Regions from separate parts of the Homo sapiens genome. Here all the other regions are linked to region 1. The links come from fine-mapping of genetic effects on gene expression. A gene starts in region 1. Each other region holds a variant in brackets. All regions are shown on one strand. Distances are from middle to middle.

Region 1 (4,601 bases):
CAGGAATGCAGTATTACTTTTGATTTATTATTTTTGTATGTTGATAAAGTTCTAGTGGTTTCTGCTTGGCCTTTCCTACCAGAATAATAGCCTTATGTCCGAGGGTCAGGGAAACACTGTAGGGATTCTGCCAGTTTGGAGTATATCTATTCAAACTCTGCATTCTGGAACTGACGAAATAACTACAGTGTGAGTTTGGAAACCCAATGGGCTCACTGGGTATTGTGTGATCCTAGCTAAAACCTGGAAATAACCCAAATTTTCCATCAACAAATGAATAAACAAATTATGGTATATCCATACAATGGAATACTACTCAGAAAAAAAGAACAATAGATACACACAAACATAGGTAAATATCAAAATTATTGTGCCGACTGAAAGTAGCTAAACAAAAGGAGGACATACGGTGTGGTTCCATGTGTAGAAAAATCAAGAAAATGCAAACTAACCTATAGTGACAGGAAGCAGACTGGTGGTTGCCTAGGTATTGGGAATGGAGACCCAAGAGAGACAAATTCCAGAGGGTCCCGAGGAAATTCTGGGGTGGCTTAAGTGGGTCCATGACATTCAGTGATGTGTTGGTCATGACAGAATGGCAGAAGCAGAAACTCCATGGCAGTGGATTGAGAAATGATGAATAATGAGGAGTCAGTGGGTCCTATGTAACTGTATCCAGAGGCTTCCTGAGGAAGGACTAAAAAAGATACAGTGATATTGGTTAGCAACATACTTCATGGAATCTCCTCCTGGGTGCTGTTTGGGATTCCACTTAGCTTAATCCAATGAGCTTGTCCCCCTCCGCTCCTTCTCCTGCACTGATTCTGCTCCTGGAGTGGAATTTACCTGCTTTTCCTCCTTGCTAACATCTCCCAACCTTTATTTTCCAGAGCAAAATAAACCTTTTCCCCTTTCTCAAAATTTTCTCCCTTTCTCAAACCACACCAGTCCAAGCTAAGCTCTTCCACTTCAGGACTCTTATAAGGGCATTATTACCTGTATCACATTATATGACATGCTCAATTAAATTCTGCCAAAGTTGAAAAGTACTAGTGTTAAGTGTGTAGAAACTGGCATCAGACTATCTGAGTTTGATTCCCCCTTTGTCATGTAGTGGCTGTGTGACCTTAGTCAAGTAACACAGTCTCACTGTGCTTCAATTTCTCCAGCTATAAGCGGATATAACAGTATCTCCTGTTATGAAGATTAAAGGAGTTACTACTGTTACAGAGTTTAGAACAGTGTTTGTCACATCCTAAGCCCTAAGAATAGTGATAAAAATCAATTTCTGTTCCTGCTCCAGGAAGTTTCACGCTCATGGTTAAGAGGGATACAAAGATATATGTGGCATTTGCCCTAGACTCAAGGAGCCAGTAATTTCGTGCTGGTCGGATTTAGATTTCACAGCGATTTTCTATATGCCCTGGCCCAGAGGCCTCAGTACTTGGGCAAGTTTGGCACGAAAGGCCAGAAAGTCCATTTATAATGAATGGCCACTTTTTAGAACCTGTTTGCAAGGCAAAAGAATGGTGACTGCCAGAATTCAAGAGGAAGAAAGGGTGAAGCCTTTTTGGAGAACGCAGACGATGGCCTTTTTGCAAGGTTTTGGAAGATTTTCGTTTCAACGGACTAAAAACTACTGCCAATAGCCTCTAGACAGGCCTCGAAAGGCAGGGGAGGCCCTTCAGACCCCATTTCCCCACTGCCCGTGACCCTAAGGTGGGCCTGGCCTCAGGCCCCGCCCCGCCCCGCCCCTGCAGGGTATCTGGCCTCAGGCCCCGCCCCGCCCCGCCCCGCCCCTGCAGGGTATCTGGCCTAGGCCCCGCCCCTCCCCGCCCAGCGCCCCGCCCCTGCAACGTGTAGGCCTCGGCTCCAACGAGGCCCCATGGCTCCGTCCCCGCCCCATCGCCCCGCCCCTCCCGGGAGCCCTGTCTTCTGCCGTGCGCTGAGTGTCCGCGTCGCCCTCGCCGCAGTCGCGGGCACCCCGCTCGGCGTCGGTGCCTGAGGGAGGCCGCGATGGCGGCCGAGGCCCTGGCGGCGGAGGCCGTGGCGTCGCGCCTGGAGCGGCAGGAGGAGGACATCCGCTGGCTGTGGTCGGAGGTCGAGCGCCTGAGGGACGAGCAGCTGAACGCGCCCTACAGCTGCCAGGCGGAGGGGCCGTGCCTCACGCGGGAGGTGGCGCAGCTCCGGGCCGAGAACTGCGACCTGCGCCACCGCCTGTGCAGCCTGCGGCTGTGCCTCGCCGAGGAGCGGAGCCGCCAGGCCACGCTGGAGAGCGCGGAGCTAGAGGCGGCGCAGGAGGCCGGCGCACAGGTAACCGGGCGGTGGGGACACTGGAGAGGACGCGGGCGGGGCGGGCCGAGACGGTGCGCACCGAAAGGTTTTCAACTGCGGGGGCAGGTGCGGGGGCGCCCCGGGGGAGTGCCCTCCCAGTGCCCTGCGGCTGGCCCGCCCTGCCCTGCTCGGTGGTCCCGTGTGGCCTGGGGAGCCGCCGGATTTCCAGCAGTCGCCAGACTTAACCAAATGCTGTTGATTTCTCAATTCGTCCATTAAAGAGCCTGCCACGCATCTTTTTCAGTAGCAGAAATAGTGTTTTCATTTGTTTGAAAAAATGCTGGAGTGTTTAAAACTCATTCTTTCCTTGGTCAGAAAGACTAACAGCTGCGTATGTAAACTCTCATTCCCTCTGGTTCTTTTTTGTTGTTGGGTTTTTTTTGGACGAGAAGTTTTCGCTTTTTGTGCTCTTGTTTTGGTGGTTCATCTTGAGAGGATAGCTGTATATTTAACATTTTTATTTAATACAGTATTTTATGATTTGTAGAAAGGATAAATTATCTTCTTTTAACATCATACTTTCTGAGTCCTGAAGCTTCTCAGGCTGAGATGTTCTGCAGTCCTTTAGGAAGGACAGCTGCGGTGAACTAGCAACATCTTCAGGAAATAGTGCATTTGATGTGGCGGGCAGCAACCACACATTTTCCAGCCACATTATTTGTTTAAAGTTCAGGACAAAAGGTTTTCAAGAGCACAATATATTAAATGTGCTTAGCAACAGTGTGACAGGAAGGACTGAACCCTGGAGAATGACTTGCCCACTGAGAGCTGTAGCTGGTGGTCAGGAGAGCCCAGCTATGAGCCTCTAAACACGGGGCACTTGCAGCCTGCTGGCATGACTCTCTTCTTAAAATGTGTTGCTTTTTCTTGCCATTGATGTGAGTCATTTATAATTTATCTTTCAGCCTCCTCCTAGTCAAAGCCAAGACAAGGACATGAAAAAGAAGAAAATGAAGGAAAGCGAGGCTGACAGCGAGGTAAGTTGTTGCTGTGGAAACAATATAAAATACTACCTGTAATTTTAAATATGTGTATATAGTTAATTACCTAGGATTTCCAATAAAAATTACTGATTAAATTATTATTTGGGTCACATTAGTGTATTTAAAACTTTTCAAGCCTTAAATATGAGATGTCTTGAGAAATGAGCTGCCCATGTTTAATAAACACGTGTATTTAATCTATTTAAGTTGTGCTACTAGAGTACTAGAGTTGGTTTTTTTTGTTTGGTTGGTTTTTTTTTGTTTTTTGAAGGCGGAGGTTTGCTCTTGTTGCCCAGGCTAGAGTGCAATGGCATGATCTCGGTTACTGCAGCCTCCACCTCCCAGGTTCAAGCGATTCTCCTGCCTCAGCCTCCTGAGTAGCTGGGACTACAGGTGCATGCCACCAAGCCCGGCTAATTTTTTTTTTTTTTTTTTTTTTTTTTTAGTAGAGATGGGGTTTCACCGTGTTAGCCAGGAGGATCTCGATCTCCTGACCTCATGATCCGCCCACCTTGGCTTCCCAAAGTGCTGGGATTACAGGCGTGAGCCACCGCCCCCGGTCTTTTTTTTTTTTTTGTATTCGAGAAACTAGCTACTTTGCTTTTGTATATAAAGCATTAAAACAATCAGTAAGTATTTATCTAGCATCAACATTTGGTAGGAGTGAAGAAGGAATACCTAGGCCCAAAGAAGTTAGTCTGGTTGAGGAATTCAGGCAGACTCAGGACAAACAACTAGAGAACAGAGTACGATGGTATACAAGTAAGTGCTGTAATGTGTGACTCTGTACACGTTCTGTAAACAGTAGAAAAGGGAGGTGTCATGGGGGCTGGGCGTGGGGCTGTCTCAAAGGAAAAAAAAAAAAAAAAGGGAGATGCCAGCGGGTAAAATAGGTAGAGGAGGCAGGCTTTGAGGTGGACCTTTAGAGCTAAGGAGAAGTTAGATAGGCAGAGAGGAGCCTTTTGGAGGTGGGAAGTACACATGCTCTTAGTCTTACAGTTGGGTTATGTCCCAATAAAACCAATGTGAGTTAAAAATGTATTTAATACACGTAAGCTAGTGATCATCGTAGTTTAGCCTAGCCTACATTAAAAGTGCTCAGAACACTTAGATTAGCTTACAGTTGGGCAAAATCCTCTAACATAAAGCCTATTTTATTATGAAGTGTTGAATATCTCATGTAATTTATTGAATACTGTACTGAGTGAAAAACACAATGGTTGTATGGATACTCAAAGTACAGTTTCTACTGAATGCATATGACTTTCACATCACTAAAGTTGA
Region 2 (4,601 bases), 38 kb after region 1:
TATTTTTTACAATGAGAAATTACTTGAAAACAAATTTATGACACTGATTCTTAGAAGCTATTTAGATGTTTTTAAGTGGCCAGATCACTAGGTATGGGTAGAGACTCAGCTCCTTCAATAACCTAAACTGGTATTTCCAGGATGAAATATGATTTTTAATGTTCCAGATAAGTTATCTGGATTTCTTCAGGAGACTGGACTGAGCTGTGAACTGCTCAGTCACTGAGAGTTTACTCTTTCCCAGCATTAGAGAAAGAAATTAATGGCATGGCATGAGACATATTTTACTCCCCAACTTTTTCTCTTGAAAAGTTCAAATCTAGAGAAAAACTAAAATGCAATGCAATGAACATCCATATTTCCTTCATTTGGATTCATTAGTTGGTAATATTTTGCCAGTTTGCTTTATCTCTCTGTTATTTATATGTGTGTGTGAGAGACAAAACAATATGTATATTACAATATGGAGAGATACAGCAGCATAATATATATAGATATCTCCTATATATTTATGTAAAAATATAATAGTTGCTGACACTTCATCTCATAGGGATTATATTCATTAGTTTGTGCTGCTATAACAAAGTACCCTAGACTGGGTAGCTTATAAACAACATAAGGGTATTTCTCACAGTTCTAGAGGCAGTAAGTCTAAGATTAGGGTCCCAGCATGGTTGGGTTCTGGTGAGGGCCCTCTTCCAGGTTGCAGACTGCTGACTTCTTGTAACCTCAGATGGCAGAAAGAGGACCAGAGAGCTCTCTGCGAATCCTTTTATAAGGACACTAATCTCATTCATGAGGGCTCTACCCTTATGACCTAATCACTTGTCAGAGGCCCTACTTCCTAATACCATCACCTTGGGGTTAAGGTATCAATATCACAATTTTGGGGGAGACACATTCAGTCCATTGCAGGGATAGTTTAAAATCATTTCTAAACATCTCAAGAAGACATACATTCCTAACATGGTTGCATTCAGAGTGAATTAAAAATGCATTGAGCAGTATCTCCTGAGCTAGACTTTAAAAGTAGTTTTTAGTAAAAGCGAACACGCACACCCTGCCACACACACACCCACACACTCACCCTTAATTTCTGGGACCTTGTTTAATCTGAATATATGGAACCATCTGAAATAGCCAATAATCACTGCCATTCTTAATGACATCATTTTGTTAAACATTTTCTTTCTTTTTTTGAGATGGAGTCTAGCTTTGTTGCCCAGGCTGGAGTGCAATGGCGTGACCTTGGCTCACTGCAACCTCTGCCTCCTGGGTTCAAGCGATTCTCCTGCTTCAGCCTCCTGAGTAGCTGGGATTACAGGTGTGTGCCACCACGCCTGGCTAATTTTTGTATTTTTAGTGGAGATGGGGTTTCATCATGTTAGCCAGGCTGGTCTCAAACTCCTGACCTCAGGTGATGCACTTACCTTGGCCTCCCAAAGTGCTGGGATTACAGGCGTGAGCCACCACACCCTACCTGTTAAGGTTTTCTAATTTAGTAAAAACAAAGGATAGGTAAAGCAGCTCACTGAATGGCCGAGACCTAAGCTGTCTACCGTGGACTGCCAGGATGCCCTGCTGAAGAATAACAGACAACATTCCTTTCAGTTGTATAAAACCATTGTTAGTAATCTTAAAATGTTATGTTTTATGTTTTTTTAGCTGTGAAAACAGTTTTTCAAATGTGCTCAAAGTATACATGGCATTCTAGATTTGGGCCAGATGTCCATTAAGTGGTTTACAAATGTTGAGAATCTAAGGATTCTCAGAATTCTTACTTATTCAGCTTTTTGTGTTCATCCAAATTAAAACTGTCATGCAAAGGGTCCCTATCAAATTACTGTCAAAACAATTTGACCTAATTGACATTTGTAAAACAACAGCAGAATATGCATTTTTGGAAAGTGCACATAAAATATTTACCCAACAAAGATCACCTAATTGTTTTGTTTTTAAAGAAAGTTTAAATAAAGTTAAAACTTTGCTTGGAAAAAAACTCTCTTCTCCTGTCTCCAGTAATTCAATTAGGGAAGCTGTTAATAGGTAGGGAGGGAGAGAGGCCAGCTCATGACTTAATAATTTCAACTACTTAAATCGTTATACACTAAAATTCTTATTTCTGTTTAAAACTAAATAAATCAAAATTATAACATGCAACATGGCATTCAGGCTTATTAAATTATAAATTTTTTCTGCCTCTTAATAGGAAAAAACCTGTTTAGAAGGACTTTGGAGTAGTTACAGTGAGTTTCTATATATATTGTATTTCAATTACTACTTTTCAAAGAACTAAAACATTATATACTATATACTGTTATATGCTATAAAATAAATATACTCAATAGAAATTATACTAAGCATATGTAAATCTTTCTTCCAAGATCCAGAAACCACCACACCTAAAACTGAGGGTACATTAATCATGAATTAATATAGGACATGAGCCCAATTTGAAAATATTTGCTCAT[A/G]GTGTTACTTTGCATGGAATTGTGATCTGCCCTAGCAGATTTTAATGTTGAATGCATGTATCTTGAAGGAGGAATATCACAAACGGGACTTCACGGAGGTGCTCTCTCCCAATATGTACAACAGTAAACTCTGGGAAGCCTCAGGCCACTGGCAGCATTACAGCGAGAACATGTTTACCTTTGAGATTGAAAAGGACACTTTTGCCCTCAAACCCATGAATTGTCCAGGGCACTGGTGAGTATTAAAAGCGAAGCAGACCTTTTCATGAGAGCACATAGCACGCTTCGTCACAATTATCTTTTAATGCTTTGTGGAATGAAAGAGTCCCTTTAATCTGAAGAGTGGTGATTACTAATTTTTACTAAGTTGTTTCATTCCGGAGAATGGATTTACTTTTGAAAATATATTTGATCTTTGGCAGGTATGGGATGTTAGCTGGTAACCATTGCATTTTTTTGTGCTGATTAAAGGATAATGTTATGTGTCAATTTTATAAGTTTTATAATATTTGTCTTTCTTATAGTAATGCACTTCACATGTTCATATTTGCAGAATATTTAGTTCTTTCATACTGTTTGGGTGGATTATAACAAGATCAATGAGGTCATAATCAATGGGTTTCTGGATTTCACTGATTCCAAGATACCATTTTTCTTCCACATTTCAACATTTCTGAAGTTGAAATGCATCTTATAGTTGGTGGCATCTTAGCATTATATCATAATTTAATTAATAGGTTATTTTCTTTCTTTGTAGCACATAAAATGAAGATACATTTTACAATCAATGCTGTCTTTGATTCTATGAAAGACTAATTATCATAAAGTTGGTATGCAAATTCAACCTTGTAAGACAAACATATTGTACAACTGAAACTGAATAGGCATAATTGTCCACAAAAAACAATCCCAACAATTGTAGTTTTTGTATTATCAACATACATAGTTTCAAGTAAATTTACCTAGAAGATAATTATTAAAACCGGTAACTGAACACTGAAGAAAGCTCTTTGCCCTTTTAAGTGAAGATGAGAAGAAATTTAACTTTATGATGATGTCATGTAAAAAATATATATAACTTTAATTTTAGGAACACCGGTATGTAAACATTCTGTATCCTCTCTTTCTAAACAGAAGGTAGAAGCTATGCTAGTGTTTTGCATTGTAAAACACTTGTGTTAACAATTTCTTAACTCATCTTCTCAAAGGCATCCTTTAAAATTATAGCCTCGTACTTTATAATGAAAGTAGAGAATTTAAGTTTGTCTTTTTACACCTCAGAATAAGAAAGCAAGACCACGGTGGCTTAGAGGCAATGGGATATGGAAGCTAGGAGTGCTTTCTGCAGGAGAGAAGTCTTTCATTCAACAGAGAACATAGTTGAGTGCTTTTTGTGCTTGGAGCTAGAAGTGCAGAGGTGATTAAGACACAAACCATTCCCTCATGGAACTCATGAGCAGAGTGGGCAGGGCCATGCATGTAGACAATCTGTTATAAAAAGACCAGTGCCATAATGATGGCATGTTTGAGGTGTTCCAGGAACGTGAGGAGAAACTGCCTAGCCCTGTCTGGGAAATGTCTAGGAGGGCTTCATTTAAGAAGTAGCCTTTGAAATGAATCATAAACAGTAAATGGTGATTCACTGTGTGGATAAGGGGAGGGAACAGCATTTCTGGGAAGAGATAATAGACAAGCATCTTTCTCAGAGTGCTGCAGTGATGTAAATGCAAGGTTCACTAATTTGTGGAAGAATTTTTTTTTTAACCTGGTGATCTAAGAACTAGAATAAGGAGTTTATGAATCTTGAGGCTTAATTGTAATTTCTTTATATTTAGATAATTATTTAATATTTCTGTGCTGTGTAAAAGCTGTGTGTTACCACATCTTTTCTAGTCTAATGTTTGCCCATCGTCCACGATCTTGGAGGGAAATGCCTATTAGATTTGCTGATTTTGGAGTTCTGCATAGAAATGAACTGTCGGGGACTCTCAGCGGCTTGACCAGAGTGAGGCGCTTCCAGCAGGACGATGCTCACATTTTTTGCACAGTGGAGCAGGTAAACAATAACACAGAGTGAAGCAGTGTGGTCACAAATTGAGTGTGATGCCCCGCACACATCTTGTATTCTTT
Region 3 (4,601 bases), 53 kb before region 1:
CCTCTTTGCCGACTCTCTCCTCTCCAGACACCCCTGCTCGAGTCCTTGCTACACACGCCCTGGGGTTGTTGCCTCTCGGGGAAGTGCTAGCCTGACTGGTTTTCAGCGGCCCCGTATTTCTGCCATGACTCAGTCCCTAATTTGCTCTTTGATTCTGGACAAGCCACCTTTCCTTTTTGGGCTTGTGTTTTGAGAGGAGGTAGTGAGTATCAAAGGTCTCTGTCAGCTCTGAAAGTCCGAGATTTAAAGGCCCCCTAGAATGGAAACCTCAGGGCCAAGGGCTCCTGTCAGTCCTTTTCCACCCTATATCTGCTGTGAAGAACCGTACCTGGCCCGTACGGGCTCAGTAAATATTTATTGAATGAACGCACTTTTCTAAATCACAAGCTGGCAGAAGGAGGGGCCTTTCTCAAACTCCATCTCTAGAGGTTTATGTTACTCTCCTCTCAAGAGATTCCAGATTCCGACTTTGAGTTTTGTGGCTGTAGGTGAAAGCCAACAAAGACCCAAATCCTCTGTCCTTGGGAGCTTGAAGAGAGTTTACCAGTTCATGTTCCCATTGGGTCTGAGAACTTTGCCTTTAAAATCCATTCCTGGTCCCTGCCTACCACTTCCTGGTCTGGGGAATAGAGCTGAGGGGGCCACCCTCCATCACCTTAATTTGACTCTCCCCACAGGAGCAACAGAAGAAACAAGTGGAACATCAGCTGGAAGAAGTAACGTGATTTCTGTGTTTGCTCATGACATGACTGCTGGGTTTGGGGGGCACTCAGATGTAGAGGCCCCAGTCTCATCTTGTCCACTCCCAGCCTGGGAAAGAAGGCTCACCCCTCAGATTCCACCCCATCTCTACAGGGTCCCTGATAACCTGGTCCCACAGATGGGCCTGTCCTGGGGCATTGGTGGCATTCTGGGGGCATGTCTCTTGCTGTGCCATCTCTGCCTCCCCCTGGTAAGAGCTCTGTCTTCCTCTTTCTATAGGAAAAGAAAGCAAACAATGAGAAACAGAAAGCCGAAAGGGAGCTAGAGGTGAGTGGAGGGTGTGCAGTTCCCTCCTGTCCTCCAGAGAATGTTTCTTTCCTTCTCTTTCAGCACTTGCTTGGCTTTTCTCCCAAAGGTTCAAATCCAGAGATTGAACACACAGAAAGGGAAACTAAATATGGACCTATATCATACGAAACGTTCTCTCAAGTATTTTGAAGGTAGGAATCTGGGCACCCTGTCACCTTTCCGCCTGGCACTTTGACATGTCTTTAGGGAGAGTCCTTTGGGTCCCATCTCAAATCTCTCATTACAGATGAGTCCAAGGGTCTGGCCATTCGCCTGCAACATTCATTGCAGCGTATAGCAGAGTTAGAGCGGGCTCTCTTTGCTGTCACCACCACACAGGAGAAGAAGGAGGACAGTGTGAGTTCAGCCACTTGCCCCATCCCCTGGCAGCTTGGCTTCCTAGATGGAGGAGTGAGCCTAAAGTTCCCTTCTGCAGGATGGACTGTCCTGCCCAGAATGCAGCATGGCCATTTCCCGCTGCTTTTGTGTATGGTTGTTAGAGCAGCCTGGGGCTGAGTCAGCTGCTGTGGGTGAGTTGGGGGCCACTGTGGGGAGCAAGCACTGGACGCAGAGCTTGGAGGCCAAGTGCCTGCCCTGCCCTTACCTGGCTGTGGTGTTGGCCAAGTCCTACATAGGGTATTAGGTACTTCTACTGTGAAGGTACAGAAGAGTACCTTTAATATGTTACCATTTCTGTAGAGAGAGGAAACATGAGTGTGTGTGTGTGCACGTACTATGATAATATACATAAAACATGTGTGCAAGGGTTCATAAAAAACTCAGGAGAGAGCAACAGGGTGGCTGGGAGATACTTCCCTTCTGTACCTTCTGAGTTTTGGACTATGCGAATGTATCATCCATTCAAAAAGTGAACAAAAGATTAATTTTCCCCTTCCAATCTATGCCCCTACCCCCAGCAAGAAAAATGGGCTTAGAGAATTGCATAGACCTGGGTGTTCAAATCCCAGCTCTGCCTAAGTGATCTTAGGCAAGCACTTAACCTCGAATACTCCATGTGTTTTCATCTACACAATAGAGGTAATCATAGTAACTGTCTCCTATGGTGGTTGCAAGGATTAAATGGGATTGCCAGCATGGTA[T/C]CTGGTGAAGCACTCCATAAATGTTCAAACAGTGGTAGCAATAACAGTAATTACAAAGCAATATTATCTGATCTCTCTGGGCCTCTGTTAGCCAGCTGTAAATTCAATCTCTTTCCCTGTCCCTTCCAACTTGACTGAGTTCTTTTAAAAAACCATACCACGAGCTTGGAAAGGCCTTGATCTTTACTGACAAAGTTGTATACTGAGCCTAGCCCAGGCCTTTTAAGGGGCACTGTGTGGAATGGCCTGGGCTCTCCAGATCGAAACTTCTCACTCTTCACCTTCAGACCTTGAGCCGCAGTAAAGCAGTTATCGAGTGGTAGTTAGAGTGGTCCATACAGGAGCAGGCACTGCTGAATGCACACACTACATGGGTGAGGTTTTGCAGTGGGAGGGATGTGGAAGGAAGATGAGCCAGGTGGCCAGGAGCAGCTGAGGACCAGTGACAGCCCTTCCTAACTTCTGTGCCCATTCTTGCAGTTGAAGGAGTTGCTTAAACAAATCCGGCTAGAGAGAGATGAATATGCTCAACATATAAAAGAAGAGAGGGCCCAGTGGCAGCAGAGCAGCAGAGGATGAGGAAAATGTCGCAGGAGGTGAGATCTGACCCTTCAACCCCCCACCTTAGATAAGTCACTGGATCTTTCTGGGCATCTGTAAAATGGGAATAGTACAGCCAGAGGTGGTCCTGGGTCTGGGCTTTGTGGAGGTGGGGGCAGAGAGGGAGATGGCAGCCTGTCCAGCCACCAGCCCCTCTCTCCAGGGCTCTTTACCCCTGTGGTTTGGGCAGGTTCACACATTGAAGAAGGAGAAGTATGAAACACATCGGGGAGAGAAGCTGGAGAGGAGCTTGTCCAAACTCAAAAACCAGATGGGTAAGATGGGGCTGGCATGACCTGGGAGCAGGACTGGCATCAGAGGGCTGTGGGAGTGGCTTAGAATGCCCCAGAGAGGTGGGTCAATGGAAGGGCTTTGAGGCAGAAGGAAAGAGGTCTGTGCCAGAGACAGCAAGTCTTGTCATCTCCATGATCCTCAGTGTCCCCATCAGCAAAGAGGGCCCGTTGTCAGCCACCCACAGTGCTCTCTATCTGAAAGTGGCTTGGAAGATTGGCTACCATCTGGGTGTGAGGAATCAGTAGCAGTGAGGCCAAGTTCGGGGAGCCTGAGAGGAGCTGTGCACCAAGAGGAGGGTTTTTCTTTTGTTTGTTTTTTTGAGAATCCAGAGGCCTTTATTGTCTGCTTCCTTTCTCAGCTGAACCCCTGCTCCCGGAGCCTCCAGGAGTGCCCTCTGAGGTGGAGCTGCAGCACCTGAGGAAGGAGGTTGAGAGAGTGGCAGCAGAACTCCAAGCCCAGGTGGACAACAATAAGCGCATGAGTGTCCTGATATTGGGGCAAAAGGAGAGGCTTCAGGAGCAGGATGAGAGGCTTCGGGAGCAGGACGCGAGGCCTCAGCAGCTGGCCGAGCCACAGAGTAGCTTCGAGGAGCTGGTGCGTTGCCCCACCTAGGGAGCCTGCCCTCCTCCCTAGCCCTCCAGGCCTTTGTTTCCCCACCTGTAAAATGGGGCAGTGTAGCCCTCAAGTGAAACGTTACTTCTAAAGGCACCTGTGAGCCAGAGCCGTGCTCTGGTGGCTGTGGGAGACGGGATGATTTTTCTAACCTGCCTCCACCCTTCCCGGTGCCATGGGAGGCAGACACCAAGTTCTGGGGTCTCCAGCTGCAATGGGTGGCTGCTGATTGCTTCTCTCTGTCCAGAACAAGAACAAAAGTGCACTGCAGTTGGAGCAGCAAGTAGAGGAGCTGCAGGAGAAGCTTGGCGAGGTGAAGGAGACAGTAACCTCTGCCCCATCCAAGAAGGGCTGGGAGGCGGGCACCAGCCTGTTGGGAGGGGAGGTGCCAGGCCAGAGGCAGCACTAGCCTGTGGGCAGGTGACCTCAGCACCCTCCAGGGCAGTCCTGTGACTATTTCTTGCTTCCTGCCTTCTGACTTTTAGAGGTGGGTAGCCCTGGGCTCCTCCCAGGTCTAGACATCATCATCTCAGCTAGCGGCATGGAGGCCCCAGTCACAGGGGAAGAGACAGTGGTATAAGAGGCTCCTTATGCCAGGTGCAGTGGCTCACGCCTATAATCCCAGCACTTTGGGAGGCTAAGGCAGGAGAATTACTTGAGGTCGGGAGTTTGAGATCAGCCTGACCAACATGGTAAAACCTCATCTTTACTAAAATTACCAAAAAAAAAAAAATTAGCCGGGCATGATGGCACATACCTGTAATCCCACCTACTCAGGAGGCTGAGGCATGAGAATCACTTGAGGCCAGGAGGTGGAGATTGCAGTGAGCTGAGATTGCACCACTGCACTCCAGCCTGGGCCACAGAGTGACATTCTGTCTCCAAACAAAACAAAAAGGCTTCTTAGGTTAAAACTGGATTCCAGCCTCGGTTCCACTGGTCACC
Region 4 (4,601 bases), 88 kb before region 1:
ACTAAGATGGTTCATTAAGTGGAAAATTGTGATAAAGGGGAAGAAATAGCAAAGTAGGAGTTTGTGTAGATGTGCAATATTAAAAGCTCCAGTGCCCCAAAATATTTCCTTTAACATTAGAGCTGCTTTCTTTTAGGTTAAAAAACTGCAGCATTAGAGTTGTTTTCCTTTAGGTTAAGATACTAAAGTCCCTTGTTTTGCTTACATTGCTACAGGAAGGATACTCCATTGAGCATTGCAGACAAAAAAAATAACAGCTGGCTTTCCTTAGTGGAGATCGCATGCATGCAAGACATGAGACTCTTAATGATGAAGAAATAAGTGATCCATTTTTAAGCTGAGTCATTACCCAAGAAGGATTATCAAGGGCTGGTTGCTTCAGGAGACAGAGTAATAGCTGAAGGGCTGGGTAGGAGAATAAGAGTCGCAGGAATGAAGCCAGAACTGAGTAAAAGAATAAATTGAGCTAAACACAAAATTTACCTACTTCACAATCCCTCATAAAGCAAAGATGAGAAAATAATACAAAGAGCAAATGGCAGCAGATCTAAAAATTTACTCAGCTTTTGTCCTCTTGTCTTCACATTTCTTAAGTATTAAGTATTCATCTTTGGGTCGCTGAATGGCTTCCAGGATGACACATTGGGTTATAAGTGTTTGATTATTTTGATGCATCCCAAACCCTCCATGGAAAGAATGTGTTCTCTCCTAAGGCCATTGCCATTAGGAGATATCCTGCTTTGAGTTCCCTAGTTCTGGCCTGGCTATTGCTCTCAATAATTACAATGACATGAATTATAGTTATCATCTATTTACACTAAACAATTGTGATAGTGTGACAAATACAGATAGTCTAGCATTTGATGGAATCATTTAAATTTAAATTCACCTAACTGGAATTGCATGGGATCGGAATTGGGCAACTTCTTAGAATAGATTTATGATCACTACATTTTAAAATTTTCTTAAAAAGATGTTCATTATTCTCAATCAATAAACTCAATGAGCTGGAAAAGATCTGAGACTACGTTCTGAACCAGTTCCTTTATTTACCCATCCAGGAAATGTCAGTTTTTCCCTCAGTTTTCAAGGTTCAAAAATATATTTCTTAGCTATTATGAACAGGTATCATGCATTTTTTTTTTTTTTTTTTGAGACAGATTCTCACTCTGTCACCCAGGCTGGATTGCCATGGCACAATCTCGGTTCACTGCAACCTCCACCTCCTAGGTTTAAGCGATTCTGTAGCCTCAGCCTCCCGAGTAGCTGGATTTACATTCATGCACCACCACATCTGGCTAATTTTTGTATTTTTAATAGAGATGAGGTTTCACCATGTTGGCCAGGCTGGTCTCGAACTCCTGCACTCAACTGATCTGTCCACCTCGGCCTCCCAAAGTGCTGGGATTACAGGTGATGAGCCACCGTGCCCGGCTGTGTCCTGCTTCTCATTAACATAAAAGTCCAAATGTTCTCTTACAAAAAGGAAATCTCCATCCTTTCAACTAAGCTGATATCCACTTAATTCATCCCCTGTGGATATAAAGAAGTTGTCAGGTACTCTGTCAGATAAGTGCTTAATATCCTTGATGTTGGTAAAAGCAAATAAAGATCACTCATCTGTACCCTCTAGTTTTATTCACCTCAATTTGCTTTAGCCTTCCTCAAAGGATCCATCTTCTACCTCTTTATCTTGTCACTTTTGTCTAATCACTCCATTTCACTACCTAAACTTCTCATTATATAGACCTAAAAATTTATCATAAATGTTTTGAAAACATGAACAAGTATAGGAGGATTTATTGCAGGTTGTTAAACATTACACATTTAGTTTCCTACTTTTTTTTCCTCCATTCTTCAATCAACTAATTTTAACAGACACTACATTTTTTTAGTTCAGGGTGAGTTAAAAACCCAGATGTTTTTCTTCCAAATGTTTTCAATTATTCCTTCTCCATCTTGAGTCCATGAAACTGGAATTTCATCTTTTAAAGCTTCACTTATGACTAGTATCTGATGAACTTTCTCCTTTTTATATCTTGGGTCTTCTCTAGAAATAGAAGTAAACAACAAGCTTGTTAGGAAGACAACAAGCATGTTTGTCTTCATTTTCAGGGCTAATAGATTTCCCCAAAAGTCTCTGGATACCACAAACAACTTTACATGCATCCTAGTCCTGCCCTGAACCAAGCCACAGTGCAGACTCCAGACTCTGTAGTGTACTCCTTTGCACCTTTGGATCTCCAAGTCATTTCTAAGTTTTAGTTAAAAACTAAGGTTAATTCTTGTTCTCCCTTTCCAGGTAATTCATATTTATGCCTTTCCTGTGATCACCATTTCCCCACCACAACCACCTGTTTCTTTCTGCCCCAGGCTAACAAACTGTTACCTGAGTCTTTCTTGCAGCTGAAGTTTATCTAGTTTATCATGCTCCC[A/G]TTGTGAACTTCATGCCATCCTTACCTTGTAGCTATTTACAGACTATCATCTCAAGCACACAGAGGTATTTAAAATCTTTATATAAATGGAAAAATAGCTAATTAACTGCACTGGAGGATAGTGACCTAATAAAGCTATAATGACCTGGGACTGCAACTCTAAAGTCAATGAGCCAAGAAATTGTCTCCTAGAAATACATGCAAAGCAACAAAGAAGAAATGTTGATAATGAGTCACAGGAGAAAGGAATGACTCTAGAATCTCTAAGAAAAATCAATCTCCACCACTTTATATTTTTCTGGATTATTTTTCTTTTTCACTTTTATTTTAAGGTCAGGGGTACATGTGCAGGTTTGTTACATAGGTAAAGGTGTGTCATGTGGGTTTATTGTGCAGATTAATCACTCAGGTATTAGGCTTAGTACCCATTAGTTATTTTTCCTGATCCTCTCCCTCCTCCCAACCTCCAATAGGCCCTAGTTTGTGTTGCTTCCCTCTATGTGTCCATGTGTTCTCATCATTTAGCTCCCACTTATAAGTGAGAACATGTGGTTTTTGGTTTTCTATTCCTGAGTTAGTATGCTAAAGATAATGGCCTCCAGCGCCATCCATGTCCCTGCAAAGGACACAATCTTTAACAATTTAAATCCTATCATGATAAATGAAAGTGTCTCTAGATAATCTAATAATATCCACTTCCCAAGATATTCATAAAAATCATATGGAATCCTTTTAAATTTTATCTATAATGAATAAAGTAGGCAAGTAAAAGAGTAAGCTATAAAAAATTTTAGTATCTTATAATGTGACTTTTATAAGTTATAAATGTAGCATATTGTACCAAGCACTTTGAAGATATAGGCTTTATCTAATTCACATTCATTTTTTCCAAAGCAACTTGCAGTTTCCTGTAATCAAAGAAGACTATATTCATTGAATTTAATAAAAGAATCCAGCTGTTGAAGTAATTCCATTATCTTTTACTGTGTCTGTCATCAGGAAGCAGGAATAATATGAATAAGGATTGATTTCAAAATATTAAGAGGAAGCAACGGGACTTGTGTGGTTTTCTAACCTTAGGTGTAATCATGTGTCTCTGTCCATGGTGCTTAATGATCATTGGTTTACAACAAGCATTGATCAATTGATCAACAAGCAATGATCACTGGGTTACAACAAGCACTCTTGTTTTTCTTGTTTATCCCCTTTAATTTCCGTTCTCAATCCCTTTCTCTCAAAGACAGTCATTCTGGTGTTTTTAAGTGTGTCTTGCTTTTGTGTTATCGTGAAACATGTAGTATTGTTTGTATGCATATACATAGAAAATGGTATTCTATATCTCATTCTGATTCTTTTTTTCCACTTGTCTCATGTTGCTATATGTACATCTAGTATATCACTTCTAAATACTGCAGAGCACTCCATGGTGGGTATGCACCACATTCTGCCTTTCTGAGTACTCAGATCACCCCCAAGTTTTTCAGGGTCACTGATTGGATTAAGCAAGTATTGGACCTTGCTTCTAACTTCAACCCTCACATACCAACAATGTTAATATTTAGCTAGAAGACACCAATGTAATAATACCAGTTGTAAAAAATTAAAATACTTGCACACTGGTTAGAATATAGCCACTGTCACAAGCCTCTTAAGGTTCCAACCGCTTCCAAGTTGCTTCCTCAGAACTCCTTATGAATCAGCTACTAAAAGTTAATGCCTGGAACAGCAGGAGTCTCCAGGATCTTGCTCCAACTCTGGGACCAGCATCTGTTCTGATCAATGCAGTTGTTTAATATTTTGAAGATCATATCTTCCCTATACCAAAACCAACACTGCCGTGGACACCTTCGACATTGTCTCCCTAGAGATCAGCAATGACAAGGATCATGTCTTTTAAAGCATTATGAGGCATTGATCTTTTGAAGTAGTGAGAATTATTTTATTAACCACTGTTTTGTGGTATGGGAAAAACTGCAAATAAAGCCAATGACTGATCTAAATTAATGAATAGTTCCAACCCCAGAAATTATATCAAAGTGGGGGCACAAATATCATGTTCTTCTCCATAGTCCTGACCCTAGACTTAGGGTTTTAAAGAGCAGTCATTAATTCATCCATGTTGCTGTGCTAGCAATTACACATCAGAAATTCATGACAAAATATTCA
Region 5 (4,601 bases), 99 kb before region 1:
ATTATAACTAATCCCTGAAAATAAGTAAATGTTAACTCAAAAATTAACTCTAATCATTTTATCATCTCTAGAAAAGCCACTGTGCCAAATTTTTATTACAGTTTAAATGGTAGAAGAATGTATACAACACTTCATTTTTACATAGTCATATGCTGTGTAGTTATGGATATGTACCAAGATTTAGCTGTACAGAAATTCATTCCGGTGTTTAGAGCTTAATAGAAAATGAAACAACTAAAACATCCAGCAGTTGATGATAAATTTAAAAGAGTATTCTACATCCATACAATCGAATTCTCTAAAGCCACTGTAAAGCAAGTTTGATATCTATACAGTTAAAGACAACCACGACACACCATTGAGTGAAACAGTGGATACCAATGCAGCACACACTATGCCGCTGTGCATACAAATCGGAACAAGTAGACAATAAACTTTTTGCAATAAGCACTTTTGACAGTGAGATTGTTGTGCAAGAAAACAAGGTATTTTTACTTTCAATTTTGTACACTTGTGTCAGTCAGGATCCTGCCAGGACAAGAGACGCGACACTCAAGTTAGGTAACTGAAGAAGAGCTTAATAAAGGCACAAAACTGGGTGGAGAAGGGTCAAGAGTGACACTGGAGAGACAAATGGAAACTGGGCTATTGTTGTCTGAACCCACTCATTTTTTATCCGGGGGACAAACAGGGCAGGACAAATAACATCAGGGCAGAAGAAAGTTGGCAACATAGAAGAAATAAGCTGTTATATCTTTGCAGAGTAATCTAAACCCAAAATGGCAGCCTCCGCCAGTGTATTTCACATGAATCACTTAGCGGGAATGGAGGGGAAGAAAAAGGTGATTAACATGAAACATGGCTGTTGAAATCCTCTTTCCTGTAGCTCACCATGAGGACTATTTTGATAACAGCCATTTCATTGCTTCATTAGATGAGCAGATTCTGGGTGGTGCAGTATGTGAAGAGGCCAGTAGATCTAATGGTCATGTCCTAACTCTCATACCTCCATATCTTTAATGTGGTATAATATGACATCTTGTGGAACTACATGTCATGTGTTAATTACTCTGTAATCTTTAGAAAAATGATTGCTTAAGCCCCTGAAGCTTTGTGTTGTAATTATCCAACTGGTGCTTGCTATGAAACTCATTTTTTCTCTTTTCACCACCAATTTTTCTAATACCTGGGTATGCCAGGTAGTATGGCCAAAGAAGTAAGGCTATCTGCACAAAGTCTAGATCTTTTACAGCAAAATCTTTTTCATATTTGCGCCCTGCTCAAAGCTGACAGACTTTCATGGCTTTCAGCATATGGGTTGTGGTAGTATTCCTGATTATAGCCTATGCTTCCTCCAGAAATGGAAGAAATCTACCAGGTATAGTTCTTTCTTATTAGTGACAGAAGGTGCAAGATGCAATAATTTTCCTTTGATTAAAAGAACAAACCTGGAGGCATCACATTACCAGACTTCAAATTATACTACAAGGCGATAGTTACCAAAACAGTATGGTGCTTATATACAAGTAGGCATGTCGACCAATGGAACTGAATAAAGAACCCAGAAATAAAGTCAAATATGTACAGCCAACTGATCTTTGACAAAGCATACAAAAACATAAATTAGGGAATGGACAACCTATTCAATAAATGGTTCTGAGAAAACTGGTAAGCCATGTGTAGATGAATGAAACTGGATCTGTGTCTCTCACCTTATAAAAAATCAACTCAAGGTAAATCAAAGACTAAAATATAAGACCTGAAACTATAAAAATTCTAGAAGACAACATCAGAAAAACTTTTCTAGACATCAGCCTAGACAAAGAATTCATGACTCAGACTTCAAAATCTAATGCGACAAGAACAAAAATAAATAGGACCTAGTTAAACTAAAAAGCTTCTACACAGCAAAAGAAATAATAATCAGAGTAAATAGACAACCTACAGAATGGGAGAAAATATTTGCAACCTATGCATCTGACAAAGGACTAGTATCCACAATCTACAAGAAACTCAAGTCAGCAGAAACTAAAATAATCCCATCAAAAAATGGGCAAAGCACATGAATAGATATTTCTCAAAAAAAGATATACAAATGGCCAACAAATACATGAAAAATGCTCAACATTACTAATCATCAGGGAAATGAAAATCAAAACCACGAGACACCACCTTACTCTTGCAAGAATGGCCATTATTAAAAAGTCAAAAAACAATAGATGTTGGCACGGTTGTGGGGGAAAGGGAAGACTTATACACTGCTGGTGAGAATGTAAATCAGTACAACCTCTATGGAAAACAGTAAGGAAATTCCTTAAAATGCTAAAAGTAGATCTAACATTTGATCCAGCAATCGCATTACTGGGTATCTACCCAAAGGAAAATAAGTCATTATATGAAAAAGATACTTGCACATGTATATTGATAGCAGCAGAATTCGTAATTGCAAAGATGTGGAAAACCAACCTAAGCCCCCATCGACTCATGAGTGGATAAAAAATATATATACCACGGAATACTACTCC[G/A]CCATTAAAAGGAATGAAGTAATGTCTTTTGCGGCAACTTGGATGAAGCTAGAGGCCATTATTCTAAGTGAAGTAACACAGGAGTGGAAAACCAAATCTTTATGTTCTCACTTATAAGTTGTAGCTAAGCTATGAGTAAACAAAGTCAGACAGGGTGATATAATAGACTTTAGAAAATCAGAAGTGGGAGTGTGGGAGGGAGGCTAGGGGTAAAAATCTACACGTCAGGTACAATGCACACTACTCAGGTGATGGGTGCACAAAGATATCAGAATTCACCACTATATAATTCATCCATATAACAAAAAAAAACCCCTTGTACCCCAAAACTTACTTGAAATAAAAAAAATTTTAAAGAAGGAAAAAACATTTTCCTTTGCTTTGAAAAGGACCTCCTAGCATGGACTGGGCCATCAAACTCAAAATTTTAATGATGTGACAATTTCACAGTTCTCTATAGAGTTTATTCCTTCTCTTGAGAGCATATGTGTACTACTAAAGTATCTAATACTTGCCACTCCTTCATCTGGTTTGACAGCATAGTGTTATTAATATAATCGACCATTAAGACAATCTATAAAATATCCAAATGGTTCAAGTCTCTTCAGGCTATTTTATGGTACAGTAAGACAGCAAACGTATATGTTGTCCATTCCAAGTGAATGCTGTTTCTAATTCTACTTTGTGAAAGAGATGGAAGAGAAAATTTACCAGATCAATGATCACATATTATATACCCAGGTCTATGTTAATCTGCTCTAGCAAAGGTACCACCTTTGGCACAGTAGCTGCAATTTAGATTACTACTGGGATAAGTTTACAATAGTCCATTGGCATTCTCCAGGAAGTGACTAGCTTTCATAGGTGACACACTGGTGAATTAAATGGAGATAGAATGGGAACTATTTCTGTATCTCTGGGATATTTTTACCCCTTCATAATGAAGTATAATTTTTGAAATACTATTTTAGGCTGGGCATGGCAGCTCACACCTGTAATCCCAGCATGTTGGGAGGCCAAGGCATGTGGATGACTTGAGGTCAGGGGTTCAAGACCAGCCTCATCAGCATGGCGAAAACCTGTCTCTAATAAGAATACAAAAATTAGTTGGGTGTGGCGGCATGCGCCTGTAATTCCAGCTACTTGGGAGGCTGAGCCAGGAGAATCGCTTGAACCCAGGAGGTGGAGGCTGCAGGTCGTGCCCCTGCACTCCAGCCTAGGCAACAGAGCGAGACCCTGTCTCAAAAAAAGAAAAAAAAGAAAAATACTATTTTATACTGGGGGATAGGACAGTTTTGGTGACTTCCCTACCATAATAACTGTAACCCACAGGACAAGGAAGAAGTGTGGAGTTGTACAAACTACCAAGTATATCTTTTCCAATTATACATTGAGGAAATGATGTAAGGATCACTGGGAGGTTGTCATTTGGTGAACCCAACATGCACCTGATCTGAACTAGGACTCTACATACTACCAAATGTGTCCACTCAAAACAGCAGTGATGACCCTTCAGGAATCTGGGAGTAAATGTCAACTCTGAGTCCAACAGTCCTTTAAATATTGTGATATTCCTTATTTTTCCTGGTGTTTAATTCTACAAATAAATGGTCATAGGTAAGTTTGAGCAAAGTACTGGTAGATCATTACTATGTGTATGTGTACTTAGAGTTGTTGCACAGTCCTTCCTTCTACCATTTATTAAATCAGCCATGGTGATGCTATGTCCTCCCACCCCCTCCAAGAAAGGTAGAGTTAGGAATTATTTAATATCTTCTGGAGACTTTAGACATTTTCCTCTATATCGGAGAAATTCTGGCATTTCAACTTCCCTGATTGTAGTGACAGCCTACAACAAAACGGCTGAATGGGTATACATATACAAAAAATTTTTGTAAATTAATTGACCCCATAAATGCTGGGTTTGGTGGTAATGACGTCACCCAGTAGAGGGCCCACAAATAGGGACTGCTTTTAAGTAAAGGAGCTATCCTGATACGTTTTATTGCCAGAGATGCACTGTAGTGCACGGGTTTTGAGAACCAACTCTGAATTCAAACTAGCAGACTTTGCGTC

Alleles and levels. Alleles are on the strand shown, and positions count from the first base shown. SD is a standard deviation of normalised expression in the study named. Not every link is listed here.
For the expression in anterior cingulate cortex of the gene that starts at base 1,931 in region 1, A is the low allele of the variant in region 2 and G is the other (moderate effect, 0.44 SD a copy in GTEx).

The links. PIP is the estimated chance that this variant, and not a neighbour inherited with it, causes the effect.
Region 2: its variant is the best candidate, but not a certain one, in a credible set for the expression of TARS3 in anterior cingulate cortex (GTEx, PIP 0.56).
Region 3: its variant is the best candidate, but not a certain one, in a credible set for the expression of TARS3 in whole blood (INTERVAL, PIP 0.63).
Region 4: its variant is the best candidate, but not a certain one, in a credible set for the expression of TARS3 in whole blood (INTERVAL, PIP 0.79).
Region 5: its variant is the best candidate, but not a certain one, in a credible set for the expression of TARS3 in whole blood (INTERVAL, PIP 0.52).

Annotation. Positions count from the first base shown.
Region 1 is chr15:101,721,803-101,726,403 of GRCh38, reverse strand. It overlaps TARS3 (threonyl-tRNA synthetase 3), which reads left to right and starts at 1,931. Exons shown (of 19, transcript NM_152334.3): 1 at 1,931-2,313; 2 at 3,240-3,311. The coding sequence starts at 2,017. RefSeq lists a silencer at 1,646-2,535.
Region 2 is chr15:101,684,001-101,688,601 of GRCh38, reverse strand. TARS3 (threonyl-tRNA synthetase 3) reads left to right here. Exons shown (of 19, transcript NM_152334.3): 11 at 2,540-2,706; 12 at 4,365-4,527. Among named protein-coding and RNA genes, the nearest start is that of TM2D3, 34 kb to the right of the region's middle. The variant A/G (reference allele first, on the strand shown) is at 2,472.
Region 3 is chr15:101,774,318-101,778,918 of GRCh38, reverse strand. It overlaps the pseudogene GOLGA8VP. Among named protein-coding and RNA genes, the nearest start is that of OR4F6, 27 kb to the left of the region's middle. The variant T/C (reference allele first, on the strand shown) is at 2,151.
Region 4 is chr15:101,810,061-101,814,661 of GRCh38, reverse strand. It overlaps OR4F15 (olfactory receptor family 4 subfamily F member 15), which reads right to left and starts at 2,460. Exons shown (of 2, transcript NM_001001674.2): 1 at 2,390-2,460. The variant A/G (reference allele first, on the strand shown) is at 2,436.
Region 5 is chr15:101,820,849-101,825,449 of GRCh38, reverse strand. No RefSeq gene overlaps it. Among named protein-coding and RNA genes, the nearest start is that of OR4F15, 11 kb to the right of the region's middle. The variant G/A (reference allele first, on the strand shown) is at 2,526.